2 linked regions of the Homo sapiens genome follow. The protein of the gene in region 1 interacts with the protein of each later gene in a pairwise test. Each region holds a gene or a part of one and is shown in the gene's direction. Other genes may lie near its edges.

What was found. Proteins that work in one complex are often made in the same cells at the same time.
Region 2: the proteins of ZNF726 (region 1) and PFDN2 interact in binary tests that used the Homo sapiens proteins (3 or more experiments, as listed by UniProt).

The regions. Positions count from the first base shown.
Region 1 is NC_000019.10:23,913,702-23,917,721, forward strand, and holds the start of ZNF726 (zinc finger protein 726), read left to right. Parts: upstream 1-1,184; 5' UTR 1,185-1,293; coding exon 1,294-1,296; intron 1,297-4,020. UniProt on the Homo sapiens protein: May be involved in transcriptional regulation.
Region 2 is NC_000001.11:161,104,516-161,108,058, reverse strand, and holds part of PFDN2 (prefoldin subunit 2), read left to right. Parts: intron 1-3,543. UniProt on the Homo sapiens protein: Binds specifically to cytosolic chaperonin (c-CPN) and transfers target proteins to it. Binds to nascent polypeptide chain and promotes folding in an environment in which there are many competing pathways for nonnative proteins.

The DNA.
Region 1 (4,020 bases):
CCTGTTTAGTTTACGTGGAATAATTTTACTAATTTTGCTTTGCTGTTGTGGAATATATTGTGGTTGTACTCTTTGTGTAGGAATGCAAGACAAGCTCACTAAATGCTTTCTTAAATTGGACGCTTATTAATCTTCTAGACATCACCTTCTTTTGGAACTAGAAGTTATGAACGACCTTCACCATACCAACACTGTCTGACTGAATTTCTCTCTACCCTGAATGCAAGAGACCAATGGTTAGGCAGGAATATTATCGCCCCTAATCAGCCTGAAAAAGTTACAGAAGACGAATCTTTGTCTCTCTGCAACTCTTAGGATTAAGGGTCCTCTTGTAAAGGAAGGCGAAAAATATGTCAGAATCATTTGAACCAGAGCGACTCCGTTTTGAGAGAGAGCTAGGAAAATGACGCTGAGACTCGCTGGGCTGCATTCTCAGTAAGTTAGGCATTCCTAGCCTCTAGATATTTATGGTTAAGGAAATGAATTAATAATGTTTACTAAGCAGAACCAGACGGAGGAGTGTCCAGATATTCCAACATCTGGGGAATAAAGGTATTCCTAATTTTGCTTTAAAGATAATATCGAGTCGGCCAGGCATGGTGGCTCACGACTGTAATCCTAGCATTTTGGGAGGTCGAGGCGGGTGGATCTCCTGAGGTCAGAAGTTCGAAACCAGCCTGGCTAACGTGGCGAAACCCCATCTCTACTAAAAAAAACCAAAAAACAAAAATTAGCCCGGTGTGGCTGTGTGCACCTGTAGTCCCAGCTACTATGGAGGCTGAGGCAGGAGAATCGCTTGATCCCGGAAGGCGAAGGTTGCAGTGAGCCGAGATCGCGCCATTGCACTCCAGCCTGGACAACAAGAGCGAAACTTTGTCTAAAAAAAAAATTATTCACATATTTAATACGTTGAAAAAAAGACAGCAAAGAAGAGAGAAAATTTTTCCGTGTTCTGAGATGGGCCTCGTTCAGCTCCGGGAGGAAGCCCCGCCTGAAAAGGCTGAGGCTTAGGCTGTCAATCTTTCTTCATTCAGCCCAACGTCTGATGACATCTTCTGTCACTCAGGGCCTTAGAAAGCGGGGTTCTTAAACGTTATCCAATCAGAGACGCTGTCCTGGGAACTGTCCAATCAGGCACGCAGCTGGAGCGAACAGGGCGGCTTCCGGGATTTGGCGGGGCCTTTGTCTCTATCTGCGGCCGGAGCTCCAGGTCTCGTCCTCACTACTCTGTGTCTTCTGCTTTTAGGGGCGCAGCCTCTGTGGCCCTGTGACCTGCCCCCTGGAAGCCTAGAAATGGTGAGAGTGCCGGGTGCGACATCCCAAGAGAGGGAACGGGGCTGGCTGGAACCGGTGGGAAGCGGCAGTGGCGGGACTCAGGCCTCCTCGCTGTCAGTTTTACAATCTGCGCCCGAGTTGTTGCCCAGCTCGGCCTCAGTCCCTTCAGCCTTAAGATGGCGGCTGCGCTGACAGCCGGGCTCCCGGGCGTTCTGTCTCTTCACTGCGCAGTGACTGTGCCCTGGCCTGGAGCCCTCTTTGGGCAGCTCTGCACCAGTAGCCCCGCGTCTCTCCCAGATTGTGCAGGGACCATGGGAGGAACGTCAGGGCAGAATCCTGACTCCGGGTGCGGGCTCATGAATGGGAAGAGCTTTGGTCCGTGGGGTTTTCAGGCCATTTTTTCCTATTAAAAATTTATGGGCCTCACTGCAAAAACATTAAATAATTTAAAGTGTGATTCAAAAATTTTAGAGCACCTTGCTGTGGTTTCTAATTTGTATTCCATGGAAGGAAAGGTTTTTATAAGTTTCATCATAAAACCAAATTCCGTAATTGGCTAGGTACGGTTATGTAGATTTTGTTGTTATTTTGTTGTTGTTGTTTTGTTTTCATTTTCTTTTTTTTTTGAGGCAGAGTCTCTGTTGCCCAGGCTGAAGTGCAGTTTCGTGATCTCGGCTCACTGCAACCTCCACCTCCCGGGTTCAAGCGATTTTTCTGCCTCAGCCTCCCTAGTAGTTGGGACTACAGGCGCCTGCCACCACATTTGGCAATTTTTTTTATTTTTAGCGGAGACGGGGGTTTCACCGTGTTGGTCAGGCAGGTCTCGATCTCCTGACCTCAGGTGATCCACCCACCTCGGCCTTCCAAAGTTCTGGGATTACAGGCGTGAGCCACTGCCCCCGTCCTAGTTCTTAATTTTTACAATCAAGGTGGAAATATCATGGTTATGTAATCAGAGCTTAATTGGCAGTTTATAGTTGGTTAAGCGTTAAGCCTGAATTTTGTTTCTGCCAATGTAGTAATTTACAAAAAAATGCTCTTGAGTTTAGACTTTTTTTTTAGAAGTAGAAATCCAGGGACTAGAGCCACCTCAATCTAATTTCCTGCCACTTAATGGTTTTCACACTCCACAGGGGACTGATTTTTTCCCTGAATTTTTCACAAGTGTCCCAAGCAGGGCCTCAAGTCTGCCCCTCATCCCTTATTCCTCCAGCCTGACTGGCTTGCAGTAAAATACTAAATTTCCAGTTTTGTCTGACGTTGCCAAATGCCAGTTTCTCCTCTCTAATTGACTTTATCAACTATTTGTCCTTTAGTGTACATATTGATACCTATTTTAATGAATCTTTTTTTTTTTTTAAAAGTATTTGAGACAGAGCCTTGCTCTGTTGCAGTGCAGTGGCTGGAGTGCAGTGGCATGACTTAGGCTCACTGCAGCCTCCGCCTCCTGGGCTCAAACGGTTCTCATTTCTGTCTCCCAAGTAGCTGGAATTACAGATGCCTGGCACCACGCCTGGCTAATTTTTGTAGTTTTAGTAGAGACGGGGTTTCACTATGTTGGCCAGGCTGGTCTTGAACTTCTGGTTTCAAGTCATCCTCCTGCCTCGGCCTCCCAAAGAGCTGGGATTACACATGTGAGCTACCGTGCCTGGTGAATTAATTATTTTTTGACAAAGCATTTGATGGCACATTTACAATGATTTTTTTTCTAAATATTTCCTACGAGAATAAAGCAAAGAATAATCTGACACTATTGTAAAATATCTGTGTTTTTTTCTTTTATTTTACCTAGTCACAGATATCTTAGAATGTTTTTGGGTCAAGATTTTTTTTTTTTTGGAAACTTCATAGGGTGACGTATCTTCAGTCACACTTCAGTTTTAGACAATCAACTAATTGAATGGCCTGACTTGACACATGAGTAAAACATATCTGTACCTTGAAAGGATTTGTTCATTTGCTTTGACCTAAAGTTTATTTATGTATCTTTTTAAGACAGAGTTTCCCTCTGTCACCCAGGCTGGAGTAAAGTGGTGCCATCTCTGCTCACTGCAACCTCCAAATCCTGACTTCAGGTGATTGTCATGCTTCAGTCTCCCAAGTAGGTGGGATTACAGGTGTGCACCACCACACCCACCTAGTTTTTGTATTCTTAGTAGAAATGGAGTTTCACCATGCTAGCCAGGCTGGTGTCAAACTTCTGGCCTCAAGTGACTCACCTTCTTTGGCCTCCCAAAGTGCTGTGATTACAGGCATGAGCCACTGTGCTCAGCTGACCTCAGTTTTTTAACTGTGTATTGCATTTTATTAGTAGAGCTTGAAAGGTAAGGAAATATTTACAAAGGCCATAAAAGGTGAGTTTCAAAAATTAATAATATATTTTACTTGTTGAAAACTTTTACTTTATCTTTCTCAGAGTGAGTTTAGAAATTTTCTCAGGCATGTGCTTTTATGGCTGAGTGATTTCATACAGAAGTCCATCTAGCTTTTAGAATGGTAGCTACCAAAGAAAAAAAGAAAAAAAAAAAAAATCTCTGTTCAATTTCAGCTGTAGACAATGAATACATTTCCCCAAAAAATGTGGTAGATAATTGGTGAGTTACATATATTACTGAAAACTTCAGTTCCTTTTTTTTAGCAGGGTAAAATTTTGACAGTGAATATCTTTATTCTGTATCCTTTTTTGTTTGTTTACTACCTGATTTTTAATACAAATAATAAAATAATACATTTACTGTCTGAAAG
Region 2 (3,543 bases), on another chromosome or scaffold:
ACTGCAACGTCTGCCTCCTGGGTTCAAGCGATTCTTTTGCCTCAGCCTCCCAAGTAGCTGGGACTACAGGCACACGCCACCACATCCAGCTAATTTTTTGTATTTTTAGTAGAGATGGGGTTTCACCATGTTGGCCAGGCTGGTCTCGAACTCCTGACCTCAGGTGATCCGCCCGCTTTGGCCTCCCAAAGTGCTGGGATTACAGGTGTGAGCCAGCACGCCTGGCCTTTGTTTTGTTTTTTTGAGACAGAATCTCACTCTGTATCCCAGATTGGAGTGCAGTGGCATGATCTTAGGCTCACTGCTACCTTCACCTCCCGAGTTCAAGCGATTCTCCTGCCTCAGCCTCCCAAGTTGCTGGGACTACAGGTGTGCACCACCACGCCCGGCTAATTTTTGTATTTTTAGTAGAGATGGGGTTTCACCATGTTGGCCAGGCTGGTCGTGAACTCCTGACCTCAAGTAATCTGCCCGCCTTGGCCTACCAAACTGCTGGAATTACAGGCATGAGCCACCATGCCAGGCCTGTCCAAAGAGATTTTATATTGGTACTATTTATTACAGAAAAATTGGAAACAACCTAAATGTTCTAACGCAGAGGATTAGTTAAGCTTTTTTTTTTTTTTTTTTTTTTGAGACAGAGTCTCGCTCTGTCAGCCAGGATGGAGTGCAGTGGCACGATCTCGGCTCACTGCAACCTCCGCCTCCTGGGTTCAAGCAGTTCTCCTGCCTCAGCCTCCCAAGTAGCTGGGACTACAGGCATGTGCCACCACACCCGGCTAATTTTTTGTATTATTAGTAAAGACCGGGTTTCACCATATTAGCCAGGATGGTCTGGATCTCCTGACCTCGTGATCCATCTACCTCAGCCTCCCAAAGTGCTGGGATTACAGGCGTGAGCCATCATGCCCGGCCCTAGTTAAGCAGTTTTTAAAAATATATCAATAGGGTATGGGCCTGGTGGCTCATTCGTGTAATCCCAGCACTTTGGGAGGCTAGGATGGGAGGATCACTTGAGCCCAGGAGTTCAAGACCAGCCTGGGCAATATGGCAAAACCCTGTCTCTGCAAAAAAATACAGAAATTAGCCGGGCATAGTGGCACATGCCAATGGTCCCATCATTCAAGAGGCTGAGGTAGGAGGATCGCTTCATTCAGCTCAGGAATTCAAGGCTGCACTGAGCCATGATTGTGTCACTGCACCCCAGCCTAGGGAACAGAGTGAGACCCCATCACTACAAAAAGTTTAAAAAACTAGCCAGGAGTGGTGATGGGTGCCTATATAGTCCTAACTACTCTAGAAGTGGAGGCAGGAGGATCACTTGAGCCCAGGAGTTCAAGGCTGCAATGAGCCATGATTGCACCACTGTACTCCATCTGGGCAACAGATGAATCAGGAGTTCAAGTAAGACCCTGTCTAAAGAAGAAAAGAAAAAAATTGTTTGTACATAGATGATGATTTAATAGGGTTGAGAGACGCAACACTGATGTGTCAATCTGTGCTTACAGCAGACAGAGAATAAGGAATAAGGAAAGGGAAGGATAATTAGGTCCTAGCCATAGGGGAGAAGACTATTAGAAAAGTTATGTTTTAAAAGGAAAAATGTGGGAATAGAGGATAGCTTCTCTGTTTTCATTACCTGGCAGACCCCAGAAATGGCTTAATATTGGCTTATTTACATATAGTCTACAGTTAAGTTGCAGTTAGCTGCTGTATTAGGCCGTTCTTGTGTTGCTATAATTACCTGAGACTGGGTAATTTATAAGAAAAGTGGTTTAATTGGCTCATGGTTCTGTAGGCTGTACAGGAAGCATGGCATCTGCTTCTGGGGTGGCCTCAGGAAGCTTCCAATCATGATGAAAGGCAAAGAGGGGACAGGTGTCTTATGCATAGTGGGAGCAGGAGGAATAAAGAGGGGTAGGTGTCATACTTTTAAAGAACCAGATCTTGTGTGAACTCAGACCAATAACTCACTTATCATCAAGGGGATGGCAACCAAGTCATTCATGAGAGATCTACCCCCATGATCCAAACACCTCCCACCAGGCCCCACCTCCAAAGTTGGGGATTATATTTCAATATGAAACTTAGAGGGGACACATAAACTATATCAGCTGCTAAGAGATTTCATTTCCTTTAAGTGCACTTATGGCTGAAATTTTCCATAATAACTGTAGATAACTCAACATGTTTAAGTAGATTTTAGTTTGGTATTTGATTAAAAGTTCATAAAATGGAACAAGAGGAAATTAGTTATTAGCAAGAATGTTGAAGAAAAGTTGGAATTAAAAAAAAATCTCAGGCGGGTGCAGTGGCTCACGCCTGTAATCCCAGCACTTTGGGAGTCTGAGGTGGGTGGATCACCTGAGGTCAGGAGTTCAAGACCAGCCTGACCAATATGGTGGAACCCCCATCTCTACTAAAATTATAAAAATTACCTTGGTGTGGTGGTATGCACATGTAGTCCCAGCTACTTGGGAGGCTGAGGCAGGAGAATCGCTTGAACCCGGGAGGCGGAGGTTGCAATGAGCTGAGATCGCGCCACTGCACTCCAGCCTGGGCGACAGAGCAAGACTCCTCTCAGAAAAAAAAAGAAAAGAAAAGAAAAGTAGATTCCTGTTAATTACTAAGGAAAATAAATTCTGCTGGGCATGGTAGCTCCTGCGTGTAATCCCAGCTCTTTGGGAGGCCAGGGTGGGAGGATTGCTTGAGGCCAGGAGTTCAAGATCAGCCTGAGCAACATGGTGAGACCCTGTCTCTACAAAAAATAAAAATAAATAAAAATAATTGCGTGGTGGCACATGTCTGTAGTCCCAGCTACTTGGGAGGCTGAGGCAGAAGGATCACTTGAGCCCAGGAGTTAAAAGTTGGGGCATCAGAAATTTTAGACACTTAAGCTGATTTCTTTGATGTATTTAACAACATACATCCAGAAAAGTGGATCATTTGGGTGCTGAGGGAACATCTAGAATCTGCTTTAGTCATAATTTTTTTTTAGATGGAATTATTTTGATCTAGAATATTAACAGTGGAGAAAAAGCTAATATAAATGGGATGGTTTTGAGACAGGCAATGAAGGTTAAGGAAAAACAATCTGTAGATAAGTTAGATTTCCAAGGCATTTGTTGAAATGAATGGCTAAAGTAGCTTGAGATGAAGGGGTGATAGATGGGAGAAAGGAGGAGGTTGCTGGAATGACAAGTTTTTGGTGAAGTATTACTCCTTGGTTTATTGGCAGTAGAAGGGACATAAGGGTGGTGCAGGTCAGCCATTTGGATAATATTTGCTGTATGTGATCCTTGCAGAAGGCGAACTAGAGCTAAGGGGCCAGGCCAGGCATGTTGGCTCATGCCTGTAATCCCAGCACTTTGGGAGGCTGAGGCAGGCAGAGCACTTGAGCCCAGGAGTTTGAGACCAGCCTGAGCAACATAGTAAGATCCTGTCTCTACAAAAATATTAGGTGGTGTGCACCTGTAGTCCCAGCTGTTTGGGAGGTTGAGGCAGGAAGATCACTAGAGCCCAGGGAGATTGAGGCTGCAGTGA